Homo sapiens: one gene and its partners. The protein of the gene in region 1 interacts with the protein of each later gene in a pairwise test. Each region holds a gene or a part of one and is shown in the gene's direction. Other genes may lie near its edges. The genes, in order: DUSP21, MAP2K5, CPNE7 and POU4F3.

What was found.
Region 2: the proteins of DUSP21 (region 1) and MAP2K5 interact in binary tests that used the Homo sapiens proteins (3 or more experiments, as listed by UniProt).
Region 3: the proteins of DUSP21 (region 1) and CPNE7 interact in binary tests that used the Homo sapiens proteins (3 or more experiments, as listed by UniProt).
Region 4: the proteins of DUSP21 (region 1) and POU4F3 interact in binary tests that used the Homo sapiens proteins (3 or more experiments, as listed by UniProt).

The regions. Positions count from the first base shown.
Region 1 is NC_000023.11:44,839,082-44,845,414, forward strand, and holds DUSP21 (dual specificity protein phosphatase 21), read left to right. Parts: upstream 1-4,939; 5' UTR 4,940-5,051; coding exon 5,052-5,624; 3' UTR 5,625-5,807; downstream 5,808-6,333. UniProt on the Homo sapiens protein: Protein phosphatase component of the sperm flagellar doublet microtubules. May act as a regulator of sperm motility by mediating dephosphorylation of sperm doublet microtubule proteins.
Region 2 is NC_000015.10:67,538,075-67,545,702, forward strand, and holds the start of MAP2K5 (dual specificity mitogen-activated protein kinase kinase 5), read left to right. Parts: upstream 1-4,628; 5' UTR 4,629-5,261; coding exon 5,262-5,396; intron 5,397-7,628. UniProt on the Homo sapiens protein: Acts as a scaffold for the formation of a ternary MAP3K2/MAP3K3-MAP3K5-MAPK7 signaling complex.
Region 3 is NC_000016.10:89,592,731-89,597,761, forward strand, and holds the end of CPNE7 (copine-7), read left to right. Parts: exon of another isoform or gene 1-1,234; intron 1,235-2,636; coding exon 2,637-2,873; intron 2,874-3,100; coding exon of another isoform or gene 3,101-3,194; intron 3,195-3,753; coding exon 3,754-3,891; coding exon of another isoform or gene 3,892-3,908; 3' UTR 3,909-4,516; downstream 4,517-5,031. UniProt on the Homo sapiens protein: Calcium-dependent phospholipid-binding protein that may play a role in calcium-mediated intracellular processes.
Region 4 is NC_000005.10:146,334,525-146,341,857, forward strand, and holds POU4F3 (POU domain, class 4, transcription factor 3), read left to right. Parts: upstream 1-4,314; 5' UTR 4,315-4,578; coding exon of another isoform or gene 4,579-4,588; coding exon 4,589-4,708; intron 4,709-5,023; coding exon 5,024-5,920; 3' UTR 5,921-7,204; downstream 7,205-7,333. Other genes in the region: RBM27-POU4F3, read left to right, coding at 4,579-4,708, 5,024-5,034. UniProt on the Homo sapiens protein: Acts as a transcriptional activator. Acts by binding to sequences related to the consensus octamer motif 5'-ATGCAAAT-3' in the regulatory regions of its target genes.

The DNA.
Region 1 (6,333 bases):
CTGAGATGCACCACTGCACTCCAGCCTGGGCGGCAAGAGCGAAACTCCGTCTCAAAAATAAATAAATGAATAAAATAAAATAAATAAAATTGAAAAAGCAATAGATGTTGGCGTGGATGTGGTAAAAAGGTAACACTGCTAGGGGAATGTAAATTAGTACAATCTTTACAGAAAGCAGTATGGAGATTCCTTAAAGAACTAAAAGTAGATCTACCATTTGATCCAGTAATCCCACTACTAGGTATCTACCCAAAGGAAAAGAAGTCATTATATCAAAAAGACACCTACACGCATATATTTATTACCGCACAATTCACAAATGCAAAGATACGCAACAAAACTAAGTGCTCATCAACTGATAAGTGGATAAAGAAAATGTGATATATATACACCATGGAATACTACTCAGCTATAAAAAAGAACAAAATAATGTCTTTTGCAGCAACTTGGATGGAACTGGAGAACATTATTCTAAGTGAAGTAACTCAGGAATGGAAAACCAAATATCACATGTTCTCACTTTTTTTTTTTTTTTTTTCTGAGACAGAGTCTCACTCTCTTGCCCAGGGTGGAGTGCAGTGGCACGATCTTGGCTCACTGCAACCTCCGCCTCCTGGGTTCAAGCGATCCTCCCATGTTCAAGCAATCCTCCACCTCAGTCTCCCAAGTAGCTGGGAGTACAAGCGTGCGCCACCATGCCCAGCTAAGTTTTGTATTTTTAGTAGAGACGGGGTTTCGCCATGTTGGCCAAGCTGGTCTCGAACTCCTGACCTCAGGTGATCCACCTGCCTTGGCCTCCCAAAATGCTGGGATTACAGGCGTGAGCCACCATGCCTGGTCGCATGTTCTCATAAGTCGGAGCTAAGCTATGGGTACACAAAGGCATGTAGACTAGTATAATGGACATTGGAGACTCATAATGGGCGAGGATGAGAGTGGGGAGAGATTTAAAAACTACATATTGGGAAGAATGTACACTACTCAGGTGATGGGTGCACTAAAATTTCAGACTTTGCCATTATACAATTCATCCATGTAACCCCAAACCGCTAGTACTCCTAAAGCTATTGAAAGAGAAAAGAAAAAAATTCTCATCACCATTAATGGAACAGACAAATAACATATGCCCCTGGTACGATGTACTGAGAATCACACACTCTGGTGGTCTTCTTGCAAAAAAAATTTCACCTGAATCTAATCCCGAGGGAACAGTCAAACAAATACATCTTGAAAGATGTTCTGCAAAACTGGCCTGAACTCTTTTTTTTTTTTTTTTTTTTTTTTTTGGAGACGGAGCCTTGCTCAGTCGCACAGGCTGGAGTGCAGTGGTGCAATCTCGGCTCACTGCAAGCTCCGCCTCCTGGGTTCACACCATTCTCCTGCCTCAGCCTCCCGAGTAGCTGGGACTATAAGCGCCCGCCACCACGCCCGGCTAATTTTTTTGTATTTTTAGTAGAGACGGGGTTTCACCGTGTTAGCCAGGATGGTCTCAATCTCCTGACCTTGTGTTCTGCCCACTTCGGCCTCCCAAAGTGCTGGGATTACAGGCGTGAGCCACCGCACCCGGCCAAAACTAGCCTGAACTCTTAAAAATGCCAATGTCCAGCAAGACCGAAACAAAATAAAAGACTCAGCAACAGCTCCAAATTTAAAGATGCTAAAGAAGCATGACGGCTAAATGCAATGTGTGATCCTTGATTCAATCTTGGATCAAAAGAAAAAAACAGCTATAAATAATATTATTAAAAGACTTGGTGAAATTTGAATATGGATTACGTGTTAGATGATAATATGGGGCCAATGTTAAATTTCCTGAGTATGGTCATTGTACTGTGGTTATGGAAGAGCATGTACTTGTTCTTTGGAGATATGTGCTGAAGGGCTAAATTGTTGCTATATCTACAAGAAACTCTCAATGTTTCAGCAAAAAGAAACAAGCAAATAAATAAATATGTGTGTCTGTATATCAAAATAGATAAAGCAAATGTGGTGAAGTGTTAACAATAGAACTATAGGTGAAGGGTAAACAGATGCTCATTGTTCTGTTCTTGCAGCTTTTATGTAGGTTTGATATTTTTCAAAACACAAACTTGGACACTATAAATAATAAGTAATAAAAACAAAAAGACTTTTCCCAGTCACGTTTTCTATTAAGCCTTCCATGACATACACCTACTGCCCCTGGCCCCCAAACACTCACCTAAAACAATGAATCATACCCTCTCTTCTGGACTCTTCCAAGGTTATCTATCTCTCTGACCAAAGTATAAGCTCTTGGAAATCAGGCCCTGTATTGTGATGGATCTACACTGCTAGGACCATACCTGACACAGATTGGATGCTCAGTTGATCCCGTTTTTAAATTAATCAAGCTGAGTCTTGAAGCTCGGATAGAATTCAGGAAGCAGAGAGGAGTCAGGCTTCTCAAGAGAGAGGAATGGCATGAGCAAAGGTAAGGAAACAGGAATGTACATTTTGTATTTACCAAAAGCGTTTGCTTTGTTTGGTCAGAACTGAGGGTTTATATAGGTGAAAATGCCTAACACACTATAGATTCTTAATAAAAATCTGATGAATAAATGAATGAATGAGATTTGAAAGGCAGGCTTAGATTAGAAAGGGCTTTGACTACTGAATTGAGAAATTTGAACATTAACTAGTTCTTAACATCCAGGGTGTTTTCCCAGCGGTGGAAAGAGAGTGTGTTATTGGGCAAGTCCATTGCACATTTTCTTCACTAAATAACAAGGAAAATTGCCTCCATCAGTGTGTTAAAAAAAAAAAAAAAAAAAAGGAAAAGTAGAGACAAGTGGGATCTGAAAGTGACCTGCTTCCAAACTCAAGGGGAGAAAACGTTATCTATCCAGGAAAAGCTCCATAGCGGAATTTTAAAACATCCAACATCCCTCAGACTAACAGGTGTCACAGAATATGAAGAATAAATAAATGAATCTATTTAACACGGGTCATGCTTGTCTTTGAAAATAGTGTCTGAGGCCGGGCGCGGTGGCTCATGCCTGTTATCCCTGCACTTTGGGAGGCCGAGGTGGGTGGGTCACCTGAGGTCGAGAGTTTGAGACCAGCCTGGCCAACATGGTGAAACCTCGTCTCTACTAAAAATACAAAAAATTAGCTGGGCATGGTGGCGCGAGCCTGTAATCCCAGCTACTCATGAGACTGAGGCAGGAGAATGGCTTGAACCTGGGAGGCGGAGGTTGTGGTGAACCAAGATCGCGCCACTGCACTCCAGCCTGGGCAACAAGAGCAAAACTCCGTCTCAAAAAAAATAAAAATAAAAAAAAGAAAAGAAAATAGTGTCTGAAATTATTTTGTTAATTGTACTTAGTTTTAAAGTTTAAGAAGTGTATACTTATGAAATAAGTAGACTCCAATACTAGTTTAGGGCCTCCACATTACTACATAGATTACAAAGCTTCTCCGTTAGCCCAGCTGAGCTGCCCCCAACAAACAGTTTTCATATTTATTTAGTATTCGTGTTCTATTTTCTTCCAGATAGCTTTGTGGGGACTGACAATTTAAGTAATGCAAAATAATTTGATTATGACAACTGAGAAAAGAAACGTGTGTTGTGTTTTGAGGTTATCATTTCCTTGACCATCATAAGCAGCCTGGTATCTATTTCATCTTTGTTCGTAATCACAGCACACCTTTGAACACATACCAAAATGATGATGGAATGAGAGCAAAGTATGTGAGTCAATTGGCTACTCTGTGAAACAATTTGTTAGTTTTAGGCTATAGTTCTTTTCAATTTTCAGCCAAATTCTATAAAAATCTTAGCTGGAAGGAAATGCAAATGTCAGGTTACATTTTAGAAATTAATTTTTGGGCTGAGTGCTGTGGCTCGTGCATGTAATCCCAGCACTTTGGGAGGCCGAGGCCGGTGGATCACCTGAGGTCAGGAGTTTGAGACCAGCCTGGCCAACATGGTGAAATCCTGTCTCTACTAAAAATACAAGAATTCGCCAGGTGTGGTGGTGCGTTCCTGTAATCCCAGCTACTCGGTAGGCTAAGGCACAAGAATCACTTGAACCCAGGAAGCAGAGGCCTGGGACTCTCCAGCCTGGGTGACAGAGCAAAACTGTCTCAATTTTTGGCCCAATTACCATGTAGCATTAACTTGTTTCAGAATGTTTAATATTACTGGGAAGACAGCATCGGTAGTGGTCAAAGTGATTTGTAGTTCACAAAGCATGTAGGCATTTTTTTTTGAAGAAAGTAAACAAAATAATTTGAACTGTTGTTTCAGGTAATAAAATAGACTCATGCGGTAAGTCATTTGAGCTGTATGTACAAATGGACTATGACACAGCTAAATTAGTCACAACTGTCCACCACAGGCCAACTTCAAGATAAAGGGCTATATATCAGTTAGCAATGCTCTCTTACAACCAGCCCTGATGTGTTTGTAAGCAGGAAAATAATTTTATGGTTACAATCAACAAAGAAGTATCAGGCCAGTCCACCAAGCCCAGCCAAATCCCATATCTCGCTCCAGTTTTATAGAGATTAGCATATCACATGAGCCAAATGCTGTTCCCCAACTTAGAATGTGATATTGCTATTTTGCAGGGAAAGTGTAAGCCCTGTTCTGCAACACTGATGAAATAGAAGTATTCATAGATCTTGTTTAACGTGGTCCAATAATTGAAACATAAAATAGATATCTTGTAACAGAACATTTTTAAAAGTCAAGAAAGATAAGAATTAGGCCTTGGAAAATAAATGACTATGAAGAAAGATAAAAAGAAAAGAGACTGGGGTGTCTCTGAAGACCCTGCTTAGAGGCCCTGTCCTCCTTGCGGCAAGCGGCCATTGCCATGGAAACCGGAGCCGCAGGGCTATCTGTCCGGGATTGTGACGCCCAGATGGGAGTGGTGAGAGGAGACAGAAAGAGGGTGGTGGCCGATAGCTGGTCCTCTTTCTCCAACACCTAGCCTGAGACTTGGCGGCGCGGCTGCTATCCTGAACTAGCTTGGTAAGTGTTGTGTCCCGAACCAGCGTAGAGAGACCTCGGACCAGCCGCCTTGATGACAGCATCCGCGTCCTCCTTTTCATCATCTCAGGGTGTCCAGCAGCCCTCCATCTACAGCTTCTCCCAAATAACCAGAAGCTTGTTTCTCAGCAATGGTGTGGCCGCCAACGACAAACTCCTTCTGTCCAGCAATCGCATCACCGCCATTGTCAATGCCTCGGTGGAAGTGGTCAACGTATTCTTCGAGGGCATTCAGTACATAAAGGTGCCTGTTACCGATGCTCGTGACTCGCGTCTCTACGACTTTTTTGACCCCATTGCTGATCTTATCCACACCATCGATATGAGGCAGGGCCGTACGCTGCTGCACTGCATGGCTGGAGTGAGCCGTTCCGCCTCACTGTGCCTTGCGTACCTCATGAAATACCACTCCATGTCGCTGCTGGACGCCCATACATGGACCAAGTCGCGCCGCCCCATCATCCGGCCCAACAACGGCTTTTGGGAACAGCTCATCAATTACGAATTCAAGCTGTTTAATAACAACACCGTGCGCATGATCAACTCGCCGGTAGGTAACATCCCTGACATCTATGAGAAGGACCTACGTATGATGATATCAATGTAAGCCATCCCGGCCAGCCCCTGACATCTGCCATCGATCTTGCACCAAGACTGAACTTGAACACTGACATTTTGTTAGTAAAGAAAACCGGATGGTGCCTTGTTAAAGGGCAAGAAAAAAGGGAGGGGGTTGGAGTTTTGAACGTAGTAAGCCTTACCTTAATAGAATTAAATTCATGAAACATAAGATAGTGAAAATATTTTTTATATTGTGAGGTCAAGCTATTGGGGCCTGGCTGGAACCAGGGTGGGGCAAGTAATGCTCAGCTCACATAGACCTGCCAGCAGCACCCAATACATGTGGCAGACCTGGAATCCTGAGCCCTGCCAGAGGCTGACTAACCCAGGAGTGAATCCCCTAGAATCTCACCCGGTTCTTTCCAACCCAAAGTCAAAGCCTTAGACATCTTGGCATCCCTTGCACTTCTCCCAGTAAGTGCCAACCTAGTGGATAAGTGGCTTTCATTCAAGCTGTGCTCCAGGAGCTCTGGAGGAGTCTCAGGCTACCCTTGCCCACCTTCAATCACAGTGGCCCATCTCTGGTTTTCTAGATCGGATTTATACATTAGTTAAAAAAAAAAAAACTAGTTTTTTAAAAGACCATTCCACTCCATAAAGTTTAAAAATATTGTATTTTTTTGACTGCTGTACTTGATGGCAAGTTCTCAAGGTGTCTTTGGTGATCTCCCACCGGCCTTTGTGAAAAGGGACAT
Region 2 (7,628 bases), on another chromosome or scaffold:
TTTTGTAGGCCAAGAAAAGGATTTTGGCCTTTTTCCTGCACAAGATAAGAAGCTGTTTGGAGAGTTTTAGTCAAACAAGTGACTTGATCTAACTGTGGCAACTGGGTAGATAATACTGTTGGTAGTAGGGGCAAGGGCGAAAACAGAAGATGAAAGAATAGTTTGGACTGGGGTAGTAGCAGTGAAGGTGGTGAGAAAGGCTCAGATTCTGGATTAAGGATTCGATACTGGGATCAGGGTAATAAGAGATGAAAGAAAACCTCTCTGAATTTATAACAGCAAAATGTAATTTTTCTCCTTAAAAAAATAAATCACAACAACAAAATAACCCTATTAAAATGGGCAAAAAAAAAAAAAAAAAAAGCCAGGTGCGGTGGCTTATGCCTGTAATCCCAGCACTTTGGGAGGCCGAGGTGGGCAGATCGCCTGAGGTCAGGAGTTCGAGACCAGCTTGGCCAACATGGTGAAACCCCATCTTTACTAAAAATACAAAAATTAGCTGGGTGTGGTAGTGCACGTCTGTAGTCCCAGCTACTCGAGAGGCTGAGGGAGGAGAATCCCTTGAACCTGGGAGGCGGACGTTGCAGTGAGCTGAGATTGTGCCTCTGTACTCCAGTTTGGGAGATAGAGCAAGACTCTGTCTCAAAAATAAATAAATAAATACACAAAATGGGCAAAAAACTTCAATAGGTATTTCTCCAAAGAAGATATACAAATGAGCAACAAGAATAGGTAAAGATGTTCAACATCACTAATCATTAGAGAAATACAAATTAAAACTACAGTAAGATATCACATTATACCCAACAGGATAGCTACTATAAACAAATATAGAAAATAACCAGTGGTGGTGAAAACATGGAGAAATTGGAACTCTTATGCACTTTTGGTGAGAATGTAAAATGGTACAGCCACTCTGGAAAACAGTATGGTGATTCCTCAAAAAATTAAACATAGAAAATATGATCCAGCAATTCCACTTTTGAGTATACATCCCAAAAAGTCGAAAGGAGAGACAGGAACAGATATTTGTACCCCCATGTTCATATCAGCATTATTCACAATAGCCAAAAGGTGGAAACAACTTAAATGTTCATTGATAGATGAATGGATACACACAATGTGTTATATACACACAACAGAATTTTGTTCAGCTTTGAAAAGGAAGGAAATGGCCAGGGGTGGTGGCTCATGCCTGTAACCCCAGCACTTTGGGAGGCCAAGGTGGGTGGATCACCTGAGGTCAGGAGTTCGAGACCAATCTGGCCAACATGGTGAAACCCTGTCTCTACTAAAAATACAAAAATTAGCCTTGTGTGGTGGTGGGCACCTGTAATCCCAGCTACTTGGGAGGCTGAAGTGGGAGAATTGCTTGAACCCAGGAGGTGGAGCCTAGATCATGCCACTACACTCCAGTGTTGATGACACAGCAAGAGTACATCTTAAAAAAAAAAAAAAAAGTAAGGAAATGCTGACACATGTTACAACATGATGGACCCTGAAGGCATTATACCAAGTGAAATAAGCCAGTCACAAAAAGGCAGATACTGGATGATTCTATTTATATGAGGTATCTAGAGTAGTCAAATTCATAGAAATAGAAAGTTGATTGGTGGTTGCCAGGGGCTGGAGGGAAGGGGAAGTGGGCAGTTGTTTAATGAATATAGAGTTTCAGTTTTGCAAGATGAAAATCTGGAGATTGGCTGTACAACAGGATGAATGAATGTATGTAACACTACTGATCTGCACACTTCAAAATGAGTACAATGGTAAATTTTATGTGTATTTTATCACAAGGAAAAAAATCACTAGACATCTAACTTTTCAGTAATGTGTCTATTTTCAGTTAAATTTGCCAGTTAACTGAAGCCAATATAGGCCAGTTTTCATATTCCTTAGTGTTATCACACTGGTGCACTTACTGTTTTACCATTTTCCCTTCTGATTTCATTTTTCTGTTAGCATTTACTACTATCTAACATATATTTTACTCATTTGTCTGTGTTCCCCATCAGAATATAACTTCATGAGGGGAGGGATTTTCTATTACACTTAGTGAAAAGTAAATCCCTCAAGTAGGAACACTACAAGTAAGCACAGTTTTTTTTTTACAGTAAGTTTGCTTAATGGCTAGTAAACTATCTCAGCCAGTACCTGAGTGACTATTCTGACTTGTATCATTTAACAAGAAAAAAGGCCTGGCGCGCTGTCTCACGCCTGTATTCCTAGCACTTTGGGAGGCCGAGACGGGTGGATCACTTGAGGTCAGGAGTTCCAGACCAGCCTGGCCAACATGGTGAAACCTCGTCTCTACTAAAAGTACAACAATTAGCTGGGCGTGGTGGCACATACCTATAGTCCTAGTTACTTGGGAGGCTGAGGCAGGAGAATCGCTTGAACCTGGGAGGTGGAGGTTGCAATGAGCCGAGACTGCGCCAGTGCACTACAGTCTGGGTGACAGAGTAAGACTCCGTCTCAAAATAAATAAATAAAATAAAATAAAATGAAAAAAAGTACTAAATGCAAACTTCTTAAGATCACATGCAACTTCGATGTTAAATACTAAATATTCCTTAAATTTAGACAGTATTCAATTTGGTAAAGATCAGAAAGTTATATTTTGTCATTTATGATATCAAGTGGAATGTATTATCAGTGATTATGATGCTTCTCGCAATGAGAGTTATAACTTTCTGGAAAAATCCTTGCTCAAATCATCAAAGTTAAGATTTCTTACTACATAAAGGCTATGAAGAGCTGACGTGTAATTATATTGGCTCTGCAAATATTGGAACAGAAATATGAGTTTGCCATTAGTGTAAGAAAAGCTTCAGAATATGTATGCAAATTTGGCAAATTGAGTTGGTTTTCCCCACGGTACTTCGAATAAAAGAGACATTTTAACAAATCACAGGTTCATAGAAAATCTCTAGTTTCGTGGTCTATTTTCTAAAATAATAGGAAATGAACTTTTAATAAAAGTACATGAGGACTTTTGATGAACGGTTTATTTTTCACAGAAGTGAAGTGCAGGTGAAAAGGGGAAATTCCTAGAATATCTGAAGGATCTGACTAAATGAATTTCTACCTAAGCTATTGATTTACAGTAACTTAAAATGTGATAATTTATCTCCTACAATGGCCTTTCAAATTAAATATAAAAGTAACTCAGAGTAAAGTATGCAGAAAAAATTTTGGTATTGTAACTGAAAATGACCAACATTAATTTTTTTCTCTCACATTAATCAAGCACCTTACTGTTAGAAGGGAAACTGACAAGCCTCCTCAACCGAGTTTATACAAAATTCAACCCCAGAAAGTAAAGCCAATTCGTGCACCTTCATAAGAAAGAAATAAAGGACGAACCTACACATTACAATTTGTAAAGAAACTTCTGTAGAGGCACCATCGTTCTACAACCTTATGCACTTTAAAATCTGAGGTAACAAGGCATTTGAAGATAACCAAGGTTGGCCGGGCGCGGTGGCTCACACCTGTAATCCCCCCAGCACTTTGGGAGGCTGAGGTGGGCGGATCACGAGGTCAGGAGTTTGAGACCAGCCTGGCCAACATAGTGAAACCCAGTCTCTACTGAAAATACAAAAATGAGCGGGCACGGATGGCGCACGCCTGTAGTCCCAGTTACTCGGCAGGGGTTGGGGGCTGGTGGGGGTGGTAGTGCTGAGGCAGGAGAATCGCTTGAATCCGGGAGGCTGAGGTTGTGGTGAGTAGAGGTCGCGCCGTTGCACTCCAGCCTGGGCGACGGAGCGAGACTCCGTCTCAAAAAAAAAAAAAAAAAAGATAACCAAGGTTTATTGCTACTTCCGTGATATCACCATATCACCAACTGCGTAAGCAGTGCTATTTAGTTGAAAATACATGGACTAGACCGAATATTTCTGCAACAGTTTAATAAGAGACGATGATGCGACTACTGCAGCTGTCCCCAGGCAATTAAACTCTTCGGCGAATTTCTTTACTATTGCTTTTGAACAGGGAACTGTTTGCTATTTTAGGGCACTCGTGCGGTAAAGAACTTCACTGAAAAATGCAAATATGTTTTGCTAATGTGGGAGAAAGATGATGATCCTCTGAACCTGTGACTTGGAAGGGGGGATAAAAAAGAACTATTTCTTGAATTCTTGCCTTGCTCTTGCTGATTCGATGCACACAACCCCACGAACATTCAGATTCATGGCTTGACAAAGTGGGGATAACCGGGAGCTGCAGCCCCGTCTTTGAAGCTTTTGTAAAGACAAACGGTCTGCAATGTTAAGCCTTAAATTGGCTTTTGGCGGACTCCAGCCTTTTACCCTTCGTTTGGTAGATGTTTTCACCTCGCTGTCATTAAGCAGGGTCAGGAAATGGAAGGGCCGTGACCGGGTCGCCGCGGGCGCTCTGTGGGCGATGAGGGTCTCCTGAGCGAGCAAGACCAGTCTCTCCCCGACTCGCCACGCGCCACGCGCCGCGCGCCGCGCGCCGGTTCCTCGGCTTCCCACGCCGGGGGCGCATCCTCCCGGGAGCTGCTGCCCTTTTCCAACATGGCGCCGCGGGAGGCGGGTCCCGCTCGTCGGCTCCCGGGGTTCCGGCGCCGCGCGTTTTGGTTCCGGAGTAACAGTGTCGCCGCCGCCTTCCTCCTCCTCCTCTCGCCGCTACCGCCGTCGCCGCCGCCGCAGCCGCCGCCAGTCCGCGCGGCCTCGGGTGGCCGGAGCTCAGCCTGCGCGCGCCGCGCCCTGTGTCTCCGGGTGGGGCAGAAGACTCGCCCCTTGAACCTCCCGCGGGGACTCTCCGTGGTGTGGCGGCCCTGGGGCTCTTTCTTAATAGCCCCGGACTGAGTCCCCTCCAGTCGAGGACCCTCTCCTAGTCCACTGACGAGCGGTGGACACCTGCCGCTGTATCTCCCCCAAACCGAGTCCTTGCCCTGCTGCCTCCTCATACCCACACGGCGGCAGAGACCTTCACCATAGCGTTCGCTCAACTCCAGAACCTTCCGACCTCCGCTAGTTCCTGCGGGCCTTTGCCCGCTTCCCGGTGCACCCTCCCCGGGAGACACCTCAGACCCCCGACAGCCTGGGCAGGCTCGGTGCCTGCGGGTGCGTTCCTGATCACCCCTCCCCTCTTCCCTCCCCCTCATCCTCCATTCCCTTGTTTTCACCCTCTGTCCTCTGCCCGTCACTCCCCTTGTCACCTCTTGGAGCCCCCTCCTAACCAGCGGCCAGTGGGTTTCCCATACCCCAGGATGTGAGCCTCTTTAACCTGTAATGCTGTGGCTAGCCCTTGGCCCCTTTCCTGCCATGGAGAACCAGGTGCTGGTAATTCGCATCAAGATCCCAAATAGTGGCGCGGTGGACTGGACAGTGCACTCCGGGCCGCAGTTACTCTTCAGGGATGTGCTGGTGAGTGGTAATCTCAGTGTCCGGATGCCAGCAAGGGGGACTCAGGGACTTGAGTAGTCAGCACCTTGACCACTGGTGACCTGAGCCAGTGGCAATGGCTACTGCTGGCTTCCTGTGGAGGCAGTTTTATTGCTTCAGGCACAGCATTGATAAATTGCAACCACTAAAACCTGGCAAATGTCTAGGACCCTGGGGAGATAGATCAATCTGACTGAACCCCTGCCCTCAGAGAGCTCATGGCCCGGGCTGGGACACACATATAGACACAACCACGCAAATGCAAACTGCTGAATCTAGAAGAGAGGTTTTTTCCCCCCAAGTGTTTCGGGGAATGTCCTTGGACAGATTCCAGCCTTGTTTTTCTACTGAGTTCTCTGAACTTGGTGACCAGCTGAGAAAGGGAAAAAGGACAACTTTAACTTACCATGTTTGAGCACACTGTTTCATTAATTTATTTTGAGACAGGGCCTCACTCTGTCGCTCAGGCTGCAGTGCTGTGGCACGATCTCGGCTCACTGCAGCCTCTGCCTCCTGGGCTCAAGCGATTCTCCTACCTCAGCCTCCCAAGTAGCTGGCACATGCCATCACACCTGGATAATTTTTGTATCTTGTAGAGACGAGGTATTGCCATGTTGCCCAGGCTGGTCTTGAACTCCTGCGATTTGCTTGCCTCGGCCTTCCCAAAGTGCTGAGATTACAGGTGTGAGTTACTGTGCCCAGCCTGAGCAAACTTAAAGCATCATTGAATGTAAGACATTTTACTTAGAAAAAAATGCTAACCATGACAGTATGACACATCATCCGTTATTAAAATGAGTCCAGTTTCAGAGACGGTAAAAGTAAGGGAAAATGTGCATCTTAGAATTGGTGATATTTTACATTCAGATTTTTCAGAATATATTTCAAATAAAATGATGGAATTTTAGAGCAGAGTGTAACACTGTAGGTGGCCTGTTCAGCTGATGTTTCTTTTTTGCAGATAGTTACTGAGGAGCAGTGAGGTGAAATGGCTTTTCCAAAGCTGTGAGCTCCTGAGTGGGAGAGTCAGTACCAGAACTAAAATTTTGTTTCATTGACTTAGTAGGTTTCTTTCCCTACATGTTGCAGCCGCTTCTAATCTTTCTGGTATTCATTTGAGATAGACAGGGTGCCTTGTGCCCATTCTACATGCAGAATAACTGAGGCATGGAAGACAGAAGCGGACATTCCGAAAAGCACATCACTACCTGCAAGTTAAGAGTGGGCAAGGTGGCAGGATCTTGGGAAGAGGAAGATTTGTGATGTGATTTTTCATTGTCTTGGGTAACTTAATCAAAATTTGATTTCTATAACTTCATTTTGAGTTCTAGATGTTACTGACTGCCCAGGCCATGCAGATTTTTGGGTGCCTTGACCAGGAGCTTTCCATATTGTGCATCAAATGCCATCCTTCTCTTTGTATCCGGAGTTCTCCACACAGTCATGCACATACAGATTTCCCCTCATGATAAGGCCCAGGCTCCTTCATGTGGTCCTCTGGGCACATCTGGATTGGCCCCTGTCTGCCTGGCACCTGTGTCATCTCTCTTCACGGCCCCATAAACTTCTGTGCCTCACTTACATAGGTTGATTTTCATTTCTCCCAGGTGTCCAGGCTGTCTGCACTCTGCTCTTCACCGGTCAATTCCCACCTGTCCTTCCAAGCCAAGTTGTGCTTTTTCTCTGTGTCATTCTTGGTTATGTGCCCCACCTCTGTGTCGTCACAGCTTTGTGTGGGTCCCCCAGCAAAGCACATGTTTGATCATGATTCTTTGTCTCCTCCACTAGATGGTAAACTTCTGGAGGAGATAGATATGTTTGTTTTTGTTTCTTCATAGGACCCCAAAATACTTGTTTAAGAAGGGAGCTTAAAAGAGGATGCATGCAATTATGGTTCTGTGGACAGAACACTAGGTTTAGAGTCAAGGAATTTGGGTTTAATTGCAAGCTGTCCCACTGACTAGGCAAGTCAGTCTACCTCTCTGAGCCTTAGTTTCCTTATTTGTAAAACAGGGAAACTTGTACCTTCCTCAAAGACTTGGAAAGATTATGTGAGATTGTGACTGTGATGAGAAAGATGGGTTTTCTCTTACTCATTTAAAACAATGGAAGGTTGATTATTATGTGATTATATTATTTGGTTATGTGATTATTTCAAGAATAGCCCAGTGTTTAAGACCACAAACTCTGGAGCCAGGTTGTTTAACTTGCAAG
Region 3 (5,031 bases), on another chromosome or scaffold:
CGCGCCCAGCCCAAATTTTTTTTATTGTGATAAAATATGCACAGTTTAAAATTTACCATTGTAACCATTTTTTTCTTTTCTTTTTTTTTTTTTTTTTTTGAGATGGAGTTTTACTCTTGTCACCCAGGCTGGAGTGCAGTGACGTGATCTCGGCTCACTGCAAGCTCCGCCTCCCGGGTTCACGCCATTCTCCTGACTCAGCCTCCTGAGTAGCTGGGAGTACAGGCGCCCGCCACCATACCCGGCTAATTTTTATATTTTTGTAGAGATGGGGTTTCACTGTCTTGGCCAGGCTGGTCTCAAACTCCTGACCTCAAGTGATCTGCCTGCCTCAGCCTCCCAAAGTGCTGGGATGGGATTACAGGTGTGAGCCGCCGCACCTGGCCTGTAACCATTTTATTGTATCCAGTTCAGAGGCACGAGGTACATTCATGATGATCAAACATCACCCGTCTACTTACATCTTCAAGCCAAATGGGAACCCTATATCTGTTTGCATCTATTTTTAATTTATACAGATAGTATCGTGATAAAGACTTTGATGCTTTTTAAAAAACTTGGCACTGCACACACACATTTGTGAACCGTCCGAGAGCACGTTGCAACATCACGGTTTTACCTCTTAATATTTTTTTTTTTTTGAGATGGAGTCTCGCTCTTCACCCAGGCTGGAGTGCAGTGGCGCGATCTTGGTTCACTGCAAGCTCCGCCTCCCGGGTTCACGCCATTCTCCTGCCTCAGCCTCCCAAATAGCTGGGACTACAGGCGCCCGCCACCACGCCCGGCTAATTTTTTGTATTTTTAGTAGAGACGGGGTTTCACTGTGTTAGCCAGGATGGTCTCGATCTCCTGACCTCGTGATCCGCCCACCTCGGCCTCCCAAAGTGCTGGGATTACAGGCGTGAGCCACCGCGCCCGGCCTACCTCTTACTATTTCAGTGTATATTTCCTAAGATCAAAGATATTCTCTTGTATAACCATAGCACAAATACAGATTTCAGGAAATTGAATTTAGATACAATCCTTTTATCTAATACATAGACTATATTCCAATTTCATTCATTGGCACAATCATAACTTTCAAAGCAGTATTGTTCCTGGCCCAGGAGCCAGTCCGGAGTCGAGGATTGCGTTCAGCTGTTATGTTCCTGTGTGGCTGGGAAGCGGGTCTCAGACGGTTTCATCTGTAAATGTCAGTATCAGCGTCTAATAAAGATAAGCCTCTTTTTAAGCAGCCACGACACCTGATCACACCTAACCACCACTCCTGGCATTGCACATCCGTCTGGTGTTTGTGTTTCCTGTTGTCTTACCCGTGACATGGTTTTCTGTGGTTAGAATTGGGTTGAAACGAGGACTCAGACATGATCAGCTGAGCCCTCGGTCCCTCTCCTGGACACGAAGCTCCCGCCCTAGTGGGGCCCCACGGTGGGTTTTGGTGCCTGGTGCTCGCACAGTTGGCAGAGGGGGGTGGGGGCCTCATCTGGGGTTGGGAGGGGGTGGGGGGCTTTCTGAGGCTGGGCTGTTTATCTGGAGGCCGAGAGCCAGGCTGGGCACAGCCGTGGGTGCTTGTAGGCCTGGACCAGAGACTGCCTTGCAAACAGGTAATTCTTCCCACAGGTGTGGGGCTCAGAGAGGGGGAGATGGGGAGGGCACAAAAAGAGAGCCTCTTGGAGAAGGCGACTCTGAGTGGGGTCCTGGGGCCCCTGTTCGTTTCCAGGACACATCTGCCCTCAGTGGGACGGGCTCAGTCAAGGCCAGCCCAGGGGAGGCTGCTGTGGGCTCCCGCTCTGCTGCTCAGGCGAGCCCTGCTTCTCTTTATGTTTCCCGTTGTCCACAGTTTGGGCAAGATTATTGAGTGGGGTTTTTTTTAAACAATGGAAGTTGATTTTATTTGAAGTTCCATTCTGCCTTTTTTTTTTTTTTTTTTTTTTTTTTTTTGGAGACAGTCTCACTCTATCGCCAGGCTGAAGTGCAATGGCGCGATCTCAGCTCACTGCACCCTCTGCCTCCCAAGTTCAAGCGATTCTCATGCCTCAGCCTCCCGAATAGCTGGGATTACAGGCGCCCACCACCACGCCCAGCTAGTTTTTGTATTTTTAGTAGAGATGGGGTTTCACCATTTTGGCCAGGCTGGTCTCGAACTCCTGACCTCAGGTGATCCGCCCGCCTCGGCCTCCCAAAGTGCTGAGATTACAGGCGTGAACCACCGCGTCCGGCCAACACTCAGTCTTGTGGCAGCACAGCGGGCACCCTGGAGAGACTGGAGCAGGGTGTGTGGGCTGCAGGTCTGGCTCCTGGGATCGCAGATTTCTCCTCTGGCCTCAGACCTCCCATCCAGGCACTGTGAGCTCATCAGTAAAATGTAGACTTCGTAGCACCCCCTCCACAGCCCTCCGTGAGACTCGTGGAGATTTCCTGAGCTGGGCACAGGAGGCCCAGAGTGCCCGCCACGGAGGGGGCTCCTGACCCACTGTTGTTCGTGATGTTTGTGATGTAGGCATCACACTCTGAAGGCGGTTCTAGGAAGCTCTGACGCACGGAGGCACTCTGGGCTGTCTGGGGGCCCGTGGGTTGCAGGGCGCATGTGGGCCATGGCAGGTGTGGTGTTGCTGATGCCTTTCCTGTGCCCCCAGCAATACTACATCCTGCTGATCCTGACGGACGGCGTGGTGACCGACATGGCCGACACACGGGAGGCCATTGTGCGTGCCTCACGCCTGCCCATGTCCATCATCATCGTGGGCGTGGGCAACGCCGACTTCACCGACATGCAGGTCCTGGACGGCGACGACGGCGTCCTGCGCTCCCCACGGGGTGAGCCCGCGCTCCGGGACATCGTACAGTTCGTGCCCTTCCGGGAGCTCAAGAACGTGAGTGTCCTGGAGGGGCTCCGTCAAGGCCGGCTTGGGGGTCCCTGTTCATGTCACTGCCCAAGACCTTCCCAGGCCAGGCTCACGCCAGTGGATGTGGCAGGTCCCTTCTTGTGTCTGGGGGATCCTGGGCTGTTCCCCCCAGTCAAGAGCAGTATCTGAAGCCAGGACTTTGAGCACCTGAAACACCCTCCACCGTTTTGAAACTTGTCGAATCTACACAAAAGCAGAGAACAGCACAAGGGGCTCCTGGGATCCACCACGCGGCTTCCCCCGTTGCTGCCAACCTCTGCGACCCGGCGAGACACGCACAGCACACACGTGAGGTTCTACCCGCCGAGACACACACAGCACACACGTGAGGTTCTACCCGGTGAGACGCACAGCACACACGTGAGGTTCTACCAGGCAAGACACACATGTCACACATGAGGCCCTACAGCAAGACGTGCATGCCACATAGATGTGAAGTTCTACACAGCAAGACACCACAGACATGCATGAAGACACGGACACGTGACATTCTACGCAGTGAAACATGCATATTACAGACACATGAAGCTCTGCAGTGAGTCACATCACACAGACACGCTCAGGCTTTGCCGGGGAAGTGTGGGTGGGGCCTGGACCATGGAGGTGGCCTCGCCTCCCGTGTCAGCACTTTTCATCTCCGTGCTTGGGGGGCTGGAAAGACCCACGTGCAGCCTCATGTGGCCGACATCCTCAGCAAGTCTTGCCCGGCACCCAGGTGAGCCTCTGGTGGGGGTGGGTAGTCACCACTCGGCTCTGGAGGATGAGGCCTGGGCCATAATCCAGTTGCAGGGACGGATGATCTCCATCTCGAAGGTCCCAGAGGTAACTGCGTTGTCCCATCCTCCAGGCATCCCCTGCGGCGCTGGCCAAGTGCGTGCTGGCCGAGGTCCCGAAGCAGGTGGTGGAGTACTACAGCCACAGAGGCCTGCCCCCGAGAAGCCTGGGTGTCCCTGCCGGAGAGGCCAGCCCAGGCTGCACACCGTGAAGATGTGGAGGGCGTAGGGTGGGGGCAGTGAGGAATGGGTCCGTACAGCCTCTGTCTGCAACATGCTTGGGGTCCCTTAAGCTCCCTCCGACCTCCCAGAAGCCTCCAGTCCCCACCAGGCCCCACTCCCAGTCCTCCTGGGATCCTGCTGGCTTGGGCCCGGCTCTGGGGCCCCCAAGGCCGAAGGGTGACAAAATACAGGCCCCCATGCCTGGCCCTGCCTGAGCCAGGTGGGTGGAGGGAGGGAGATCATGAGGGACTTGGAGGGAGCTGGGAGTTCATCCACGGGAGACCCTGCCCCGATGAGAAGGGGCAGGGACTGGGGGCTCTGCTTTGCGTCTAACCTTTGTGGGGGAGGGCCAGCAAGGCAGTCCCCCCACGCCCGAGAAAGCCTGGGGGACCCAGACACCTGTCCCCACAGTCAAAGCCTGGGGACCCAGACATCCTGTCCCCACAGTCAGCCTCCTGTCCCTGCTGGTGCCCCCACACCCACCTACCCTGTGCTTTTTGCCGTCGGGCCTCTGCACCTGGGTCCATGGGGTCTGCGGGGTCTGCGGGGTCTGCCTGGCCTGTGGGTTCTGCCGGTGGGGCTTCAGGAGTAATAAAGTGTCACCCTATCCTTGTAGTTCTCTTGTGCCTTCAGTCCCTTCCCCAACCCCCCAGAGGGCTGGGCCTGGCTTCCAAAGTGCCCACATCTGAGGCAGGGGCTCTCCCAGGCCCAGCACACCAGGATCCTCCCTGGACTGAATGGGATGCGGGATGCACAGGCTGCCAGGGGCAGAGAGCGGGGATCCGCACCATGGCTGCCTCCACCCGCGAAGGAGCTCCACTCGGCTTCCTGGGACTCCCAGGCCTGAAACCCAGTGAGTGAGGACTGTGGACGTGATGCAGGGGTGCCAGGAGCCTCCCACATGGCCTGCACCGCAGGGAGCTGGGCTGGAGGGTGAAGCCTCCATGTGATGTTCGTGGAGCCGGGGCATCTCCCACCTGCTGGGACCTCCTCGCCCTGAGTTTGAGATTTCCCCTGAATGATCTTGCCTGAGAAAAACAAATTGTCCTAACCCTGAATCCAGGCCCACCCATCCCCACATCGGTCCATCCACCCACCCATCCGTCCACCCATCGCCCTGCCCACCCATC
Region 4 (7,333 bases), on another chromosome or scaffold:
CTACTCCCTCGGACCCTGGGCTTGGGAGATGGGATAACTAGTGCCAGCCCAGGATGTTAGTTAGGACTAACCTGAGCTCCAGAATCAGATAAACCAAGGCTCCCTTCCCCATGCTACTACTGCCTAACTGTGTGGCCTTGGGCAACTTACTTAGTCTTTCTATGCCTCCTTTTTTTCATCTGTAAAATGGGGATAATGATATCAACCTCACAGGCTTGATTTGGAGACTCAGTGTACAACACTTCCAAAGCATCTAGCTCAGAGCCTTGTACATAGGAACCACTCCATAAATGGCCCTTCTTGTCACCATCATCATGGACACCCCCCTGGCCAGAGTTCATTAATTCAACATGAATTACATCAAGCTCTTAATGTTGCCTGGCCTGTAGACATGGGCACTGGAAACACAGACAGTTCTTCAAGGAGCAGAGATCATAAAACACCACGTTCTTACTAAGAGATAATAAGGGAAGATGCAAAAGACATTGGAAGCTCAAAGAAGGAAAACTCTCTTTGAGTCTCCATGAAGCTTACATAATTAGGGCAGGATTTTAAAATAATAATAATAATAATAATAATAATAATAATAATCCAAGTGACAAGGGTATAGACTAAGTTTTTCAAGTTCAGAGTCCCAGATCCTCTGCATCCAAAATCATGGATGTCTATTAAAAAGCACGTTAGTTTTTGAGGTCAGCATCTCTGGGTGTGGGCCTGTGGTGCTGTATTTTAAGAGGTTGCAGATGATTCCTACACATACTAAAATTGAGAACCGCTGGCACACAGGAAAATGCATCTGCCCCCAGGCCCCTACCCCCTTTGCATCTCTACAAGGCTAGTCCTTCTGGAGGATATGGTGCTTTGTGCCCTGACTTCACCTTACATGTGGCAAATCTATGTCCCTACTAGACTCTGAGCTCCTGAAGCAGTGTCTTCTGTATCTTCAAGGCCTTCCACAAGACTCTGCTGTTAGTAGGTATTTGGAAATGCTTATCGAATGGGGAAAATTCTTCCTTCAATGCCACTTGCATAAATGCCCACATAGTCCTTACATGGACCTTCACATATTTTGTTTGGCCCATAAATGGTATGAGTGTGTGTGTGTGTGTGTGTGTGTGTGTGTGTGTGTGTGATTGTAATTTAATGCCATGGTGGTGGGGGGGGGGGTGGGTAAGTGCTCTCTAGTTTACCACAGTTTCAATCTTTCCTTTTATCCACCCAGATAAAGTTGCTCAATTTTATTTTACTAGTTTTGCACCTTATAGAATTTAAGTTTACAAATTCTGGAAAGCATAGAGGCTGTTACAAATTGCCGTCTAAGGCTGTCCTTCCAATTGCTTTTTCTATGGTCTTTTCCCTCTTTTCTTCTCCAGTCTCCAGTCTGTTATCTCCAAGGCCTTCTCAAAAAGACTGGTCCTTAAGGATGGGTGTTGTCTTACCGCTGGCTGCCTAGAACTGCCAGTAGACCTTCTTAGAGGGGAAGATGGGAAAAACCCTAAAACACATGGGACCAGACACAGGTGTGTTTCTTGATGTGTGATCCTAATGCCTGGGGATGCTGGAGTAGGGGCTGGTAAGGTGAAGGTCAACATTGGAGGCATGTGAGGACCAGTTAGTTTTGCTCTGTTTCTGACTCATGCCTGACCTCTATGCTGGCCAGTATCTCCCAGACCCCTGAGAGGACAGAGCAGAAAAAGAGAATGGATATGAATCCTTTCTCTCCCAGTTTCTAGGGGTTCAGCTTCACAGACAACTAGGGTATTATGGAATGATTATGGGTCTCAGGGCATCATGGGACCAGGCAAAATACAGACCAGTGTATCCCTGTGTTTCATTCCCCTTTTCCCTTTGGGCTTCCAGCATTGGGAAGAAAACAAAGACTGGTCTTAAATCCTAGTGAGTGATAAAATACTGCATTCAGCTCTGGGGAGTTGAGTGTCTCTGGAGATAAATTCCTGACATGCTCAAAGTATGTTTCATTCAAATTAACCAGAATGATAGTCTTGTTAAAGCTGGAAGTCTTGTTAAAGCTTAGCAATCATCTTATACAGCCCACTCCTTGTAGGTAAACTGAGGTCCAGTCAGGGTCACCCATACTCCGTGTCAGAATGCAGCCCCAAATCCAGCCCTCCTGCAGCCCATAGTTCTGATGTGTATTCTGCACTTCTAGAATCCTGCCACCCTTATGCTCTGTGTCTTGTTCATGAATCTACCTCCCTTCTACTGCTTGGCAAGTTTAGAGTTAACTTTCTGAAGTGAATATTAGACTGGTGACTCCTTGAGTGCCAGGATGGATTCTGATTCACATCTGTGTCCCAGCCTTTGGCATGGGGTCTGGCACAATGCAGATGTTGGGTGAATGGAGAGCAAGGATCCACAGTATGCACGTGCAGACAAACCGGGTTCCAGGAGGATGACTTGGCCCACCCCCACTCTCACATGCTTTCTCTTTAAGTTGAGGAAGAAGAGAGGAACATGTATTCAATGATATCAATGCGCCAGGCACTGTGCCATGTGCTTATCCCAGTGCATTCCTCACAACAATCAATGGGAAATAAATGATCACCCCCATTTTACAGATGGGGACACCGCAGTACAGAGAAGTTGAGAATATCTCGTGGTCTCAGCCAGCAAGAGGCAGAGGCGCATTTTGAATCTGAGGCCAGGGCCTGAGCGCTATGGCACCAGGTTGTGAGGGAGTTTACTGAGCACCAATTTCGTGGCTCAATGCTTTTCTTCTTACCCTAACTCTGAACGTCTTCACCAGAATCCAAGGAGGCAGACAGTAGTGCAATTCCATTTAAGAGCCGCCGAAACCGAGGCTCAGAGGGCTTTAGCGAAAGGGTTGCGCTTGGCTCTAGGCACCTGGGCTGAGTCTTTTTCCCACCATCGCAGGGCGGGAACCAGCGGAGGGGGCTGGCTCGGATGGGGAGAAAAGCAACTGGAGGGCGCCGAGGGGAAGAGGGAGCCCGGATCTGTCAGGGCGTCCTCTTGGACTAAGGGATGTTCCCCTAAACCACACCACCCCACCTCGTTCAGATTCTGGGAAACCCGGCACGCACATACCCTGCACAATAACAGGCAGGGTGAGGTCTCTAAGCCCCGAAGATCGCTCTCTCAGCGGAGGCAGTGGCCCTGACGAGGGGGTACAGCTGCACGCGCGGGGTTTCTCTCCGAACCGGAGTGCAGCGTAGTCGAGGTCCAGGATTCCCCATCCATTATTCACGATGTTTACTAGAGCGGGGCAAGGGAGAGGAAAGAAGAGGGAAGTAGAGAGAAAAAGAGGCTAGGGGAGGTGGAGGCGGGCAGTGCTAACCTCGAGAGCCCTCAAGTTCCGAAACTTTGAGAAGGAAGACCAAGAGGCTAAGGCGCCTGGGAAGCAGCAGGCCGTCAGTAAATATTTGTAAGATGGATGGATAACTGGGTGAGTGAGTGAATGGGCTAATCATTAGCCCCTCTGATCCTTGTTTTCCTCATCTGTAAAACGGGATAACATCACCTACTCCATACGGTGGGTATGAGAATCCCATGGGCAAACTCTAAATTGTCTAGCACATATTAGGAACTCTTAAACGGTAGCTGTTGTCACGAGGAATGGGCTTGCAAGCTCTGGCTGCCCAGCAGAAATGCACTGAAGGACTCCCAGGCCTGGAGGGCCATCCTGAACAGTCGCTATTCTAAAAAAAATACTCCACAAGCTTCCTTAGACGGGAGGGTTGGAGGAAGAGTGGGCCAAGTTACATCCCTCAAATGAAAGAAAGAAAGGCAAGCGTGGGGAGGAAGCCACCCCGGACTGAGAAGGCAGTTACTGCCCCTACCTCTACCCCGGAGCGCGGTTGAGGGAGGTGGGGCAGGGGTCACCTGGGCCTCGTTCTGGCAGCCCCTCACCCTCTCCAGGGCCCGTCTGGGCGCTTGGAGGCGCCTCCTCGCTGCGCCGCGGGACCGGACTCTGGTGGACAGCTTGGGCGTGAGGCCAGGAGCGCCCTGGAAATGGGCAGTTTGGCGGCAGCCGGGCCGACGGAGTGTGTGTGTGTGTGTGTGTGTGTGTGTGTGTGTGTGTGTGTGGTGGAGAGGGGAAGTTGGAGTAGGGTCAACTTCCTGCCCCAGCTCAGCCCAGGGCTACCCTTTTATCCAGGCAGTTCGAGCTGGGACAGGACGGAGAGGTTGGGACTTTTGGGGTGGCATGGGGGAAGGGAAGTCCACGAAGAAGAAAGAATCGGAAAGGTCTGGCGGGTTGGAGCCAGCGGGGCGGGGCGGACTGGGAGAGGCCAGGCCAGGCCCGGGTATAAAGGCTGTGGAGGGGGCGGCCGCCGCGGGCGCAGAAAGGCGCGCCGCTAGCTGCTGTCTCTCCTCACCTCCCGGGCCGCCCCTGCGAGTCCCCGGCGCGTGAGCACGCCTGCGCGCGCCCGGGCCCTTCCTGGCAGGCTGCTTGTAAGATGAGTGAAGAAGCAGGTGGGGGAGAGGGGAGGCAGCGAGCGAGAGGGCGAGGGGAGCGCGGGCGCTGAGCAGCGCTCACTTGGAGAGCGGCAAGCAAGCTAGACAAGCCTGATTCCATGTCACCCGCTGCCACCCTGCCAGGAGCGCGAAGATGATGGCCATGAACTCCAAGCAGCCTTTCGGCATGCACCCGGTGCTGCAAGAACCCAAATTCTCCAGTCTGCACTCTGGCTCCGAGGCCATGCGCCGAGTCTGTCTCCCAGCCCCGCAGGTACGTAGTGGAGCATAATTACCGCTCTAAGGCACATTTTTTGACAGGCACTAGCTTCATGTTTTTTTCATGTCGCCCAGAACAATCGCCGCTGTCTGAACCCCTCTCCTTGTCTCCCCCGCGTTCTCTCCCGGCGCGCTCTCTCTCTCATTCATGTCTCTGATCCACACGTCTGTTCCAGCAGAGCCGCTGCCTCCGTATTAATTTTTATGACCTGGGCTTTGAGGAGAGGCATCTCGGTTGCTTGAAAATGTGTTTTAATCCTGTGTTGACAGTATTCCCTACTGACCGTGCTGTGCGCCTTCTCGCTTGCAGCTGCAGGGTAATATATTTGGAAGCTTTGATGAGAGCCTGCTGGCACGCGCCGAAGCTCTGGCGGCGGTGGATATCGTCTCCCACGGCAAGAACCATCCGTTCAAGCCCGACGCCACCTACCATACCATGAGCAGCGTGCCCTGCACGTCCACTTCGTCCACCGTGCCCATCTCCCACCCAGCTGCGCTCACCTCACACCCTCACCACGCCGTGCACCAGGGCCTCGAAGGCGACCTGCTGGAGCACATCTCGCCCACGCTGAGTGTGAGCGGCCTGGGCGCTCCGGAACACTCGGTGATGCCCGCACAGATCCATCCACACCACCTGGGCGCCATGGGCCACCTGCACCAGGCCATGGGCATGAGTCACCCGCACACCGTGGCCCCTCATAGCGCCATGCCTGCATGCCTCAGCGACGTGGAGTCAGACCCGCGCGAGCTGGAAGCCTTCGCCGAGCGCTTCAAGCAGCGGCGCATCAAGCTGGGGGTGACCCAGGCGGACGTGGGCGCGGCTCTGGCTAATCTCAAGATCCCCGGCGTGGGCTCGCTGAGCCAAAGCACCATCTGCAGGTTCGAGTCTCTCACTCTCTCGCACAACAACATGATCGCTCTCAAGCCGGTGCTCCAGGCCTGGTTGGAGGAGGCCGAGGCCGCCTACCGAGAGAAGAACAGCAAGCCAGAGCTCTTCAACGGCAGCGAACGGAAGCGCAAACGCACGTCCATCGCGGCGCCGGAGAAGCGTTCACTCGAGGCCTATTTCGCTATCCAGCCACGTCCTTCATCTGAGAAGATCGCGGCCATCGCTGAGAAACTGGACCTTAAAAAGAACGTGGTGAGAGTCTGGTTCTGCAACCAGAGACAGAAACAGAAACGAATGAAGTATTCGGCTGTCCACTGATTGCGGCAGGGCGCAGCGTCGGGAGCCGGGAGAGCCTAGTGCTCATCCCTCCCGGGTTCGGGGGATGGTTATCGGGAACTCCAAGGCGTTTCCTAGGCAGGTTAGGCTCTCTCCTCCGAAGCCACAGACTTTCCCCCTTTGTCCCGCCTGGTTGCCTCCGGCCTTCTCTCTCTTTCCTTTCTATTCCCACCAAAAAAATTTTGGCGCTGGGAAAATATTGCAGAAGGGCGGGCCTGAGTGTACTTGTGCTGTCCGTGGTGCTGAAATTTGCCCTCGCGCAGGGGCCGCACGACTTCAGAGCAGGAGCCCCAAAGCAGAGGACAGTCAATTGGCCCAACCGCCCGAAGCTAGGGTGAAAATGCCACTTTGCTAAGCGCGATTAGGCAAAGGGTGAAGGGATAAAAAGGAAGTGATCAATAATAACACAAAGTCTAGGATATCTAAGGGGGACACAAACATGCACTGGAGATTTATTAGAGTATATAAAATACATGTATGTTTCCAAAGGATAGCCTTATACTCCCTTCCTTGCCTAAATTCTATTCACCTTATCCTTTGGTTTGGCGTAAATTCTCATAAGGTAGCATGAAGATTAGGTTCAGGGAAAGTATGCAGGGAGTTGCGGGCTCCAAGTTGCCATTTTTTCGTGGTAAGTAGGGCTCCAAAACAGGTGGGCCCAGTCTGGCGACTGAAAATTCTGGGATCGCTTGGCTGTTTGTAATCAGCTGCCAGCACCAGCTCTGGCCATCTTTCACTACCTACTGGTGTTTGAGGGGTAATTACTGCTTGCTGGAGAGCGGGAGTTTGTAGTATTCATAACCGTTGAGGACTCTCTGACCCCAGCTCGCTGCTCTTGCCAGATTGCCAGCTCAGCGTGCAGTCGGCTGCTGGAAAACGACTGTAACTTCTCTGCATTATATGCAAGTCCTTTCAACACGTCTAACCTCCTTGCACTTTTGTTATTACTGTTGTTGTTAACATCGTTCATTACTATTATTTATTTAATTCTGCTTCTTTCCATTCCCTTTATGTGGGTGTCTTTCGGTGGAAGTTCACTTATAGTTTTGTGAGGGAAGAGGAGTGGGACCATGGGCCTGAACCCTTCTCACCCTGCCCCTCTAGCCCAAATTTTATTTTATTTTTTCGTTGTTTCATGTAGTTTGTGTGTTGCTGTGTGACCTTTGGTTTCATTCTCTGAATAGATACAAATAAAATATTAAGTTTTCTTTTCCCTTTACCCCTTGAATTAACTTCTAAAATAAATGCTTTATTTTTCAACCCGAATCAAAGTGGTTTTATTTTTTCTCAGAGGCTAAGGGGTACTAGCTTTGAAAAGGATTTAAAAAGGAGAACCCCAAAGGGTTGGGCTGTCAGTTTCTGCTGCCCAGCCCCCAGCCATCCCTTCTCCCCACT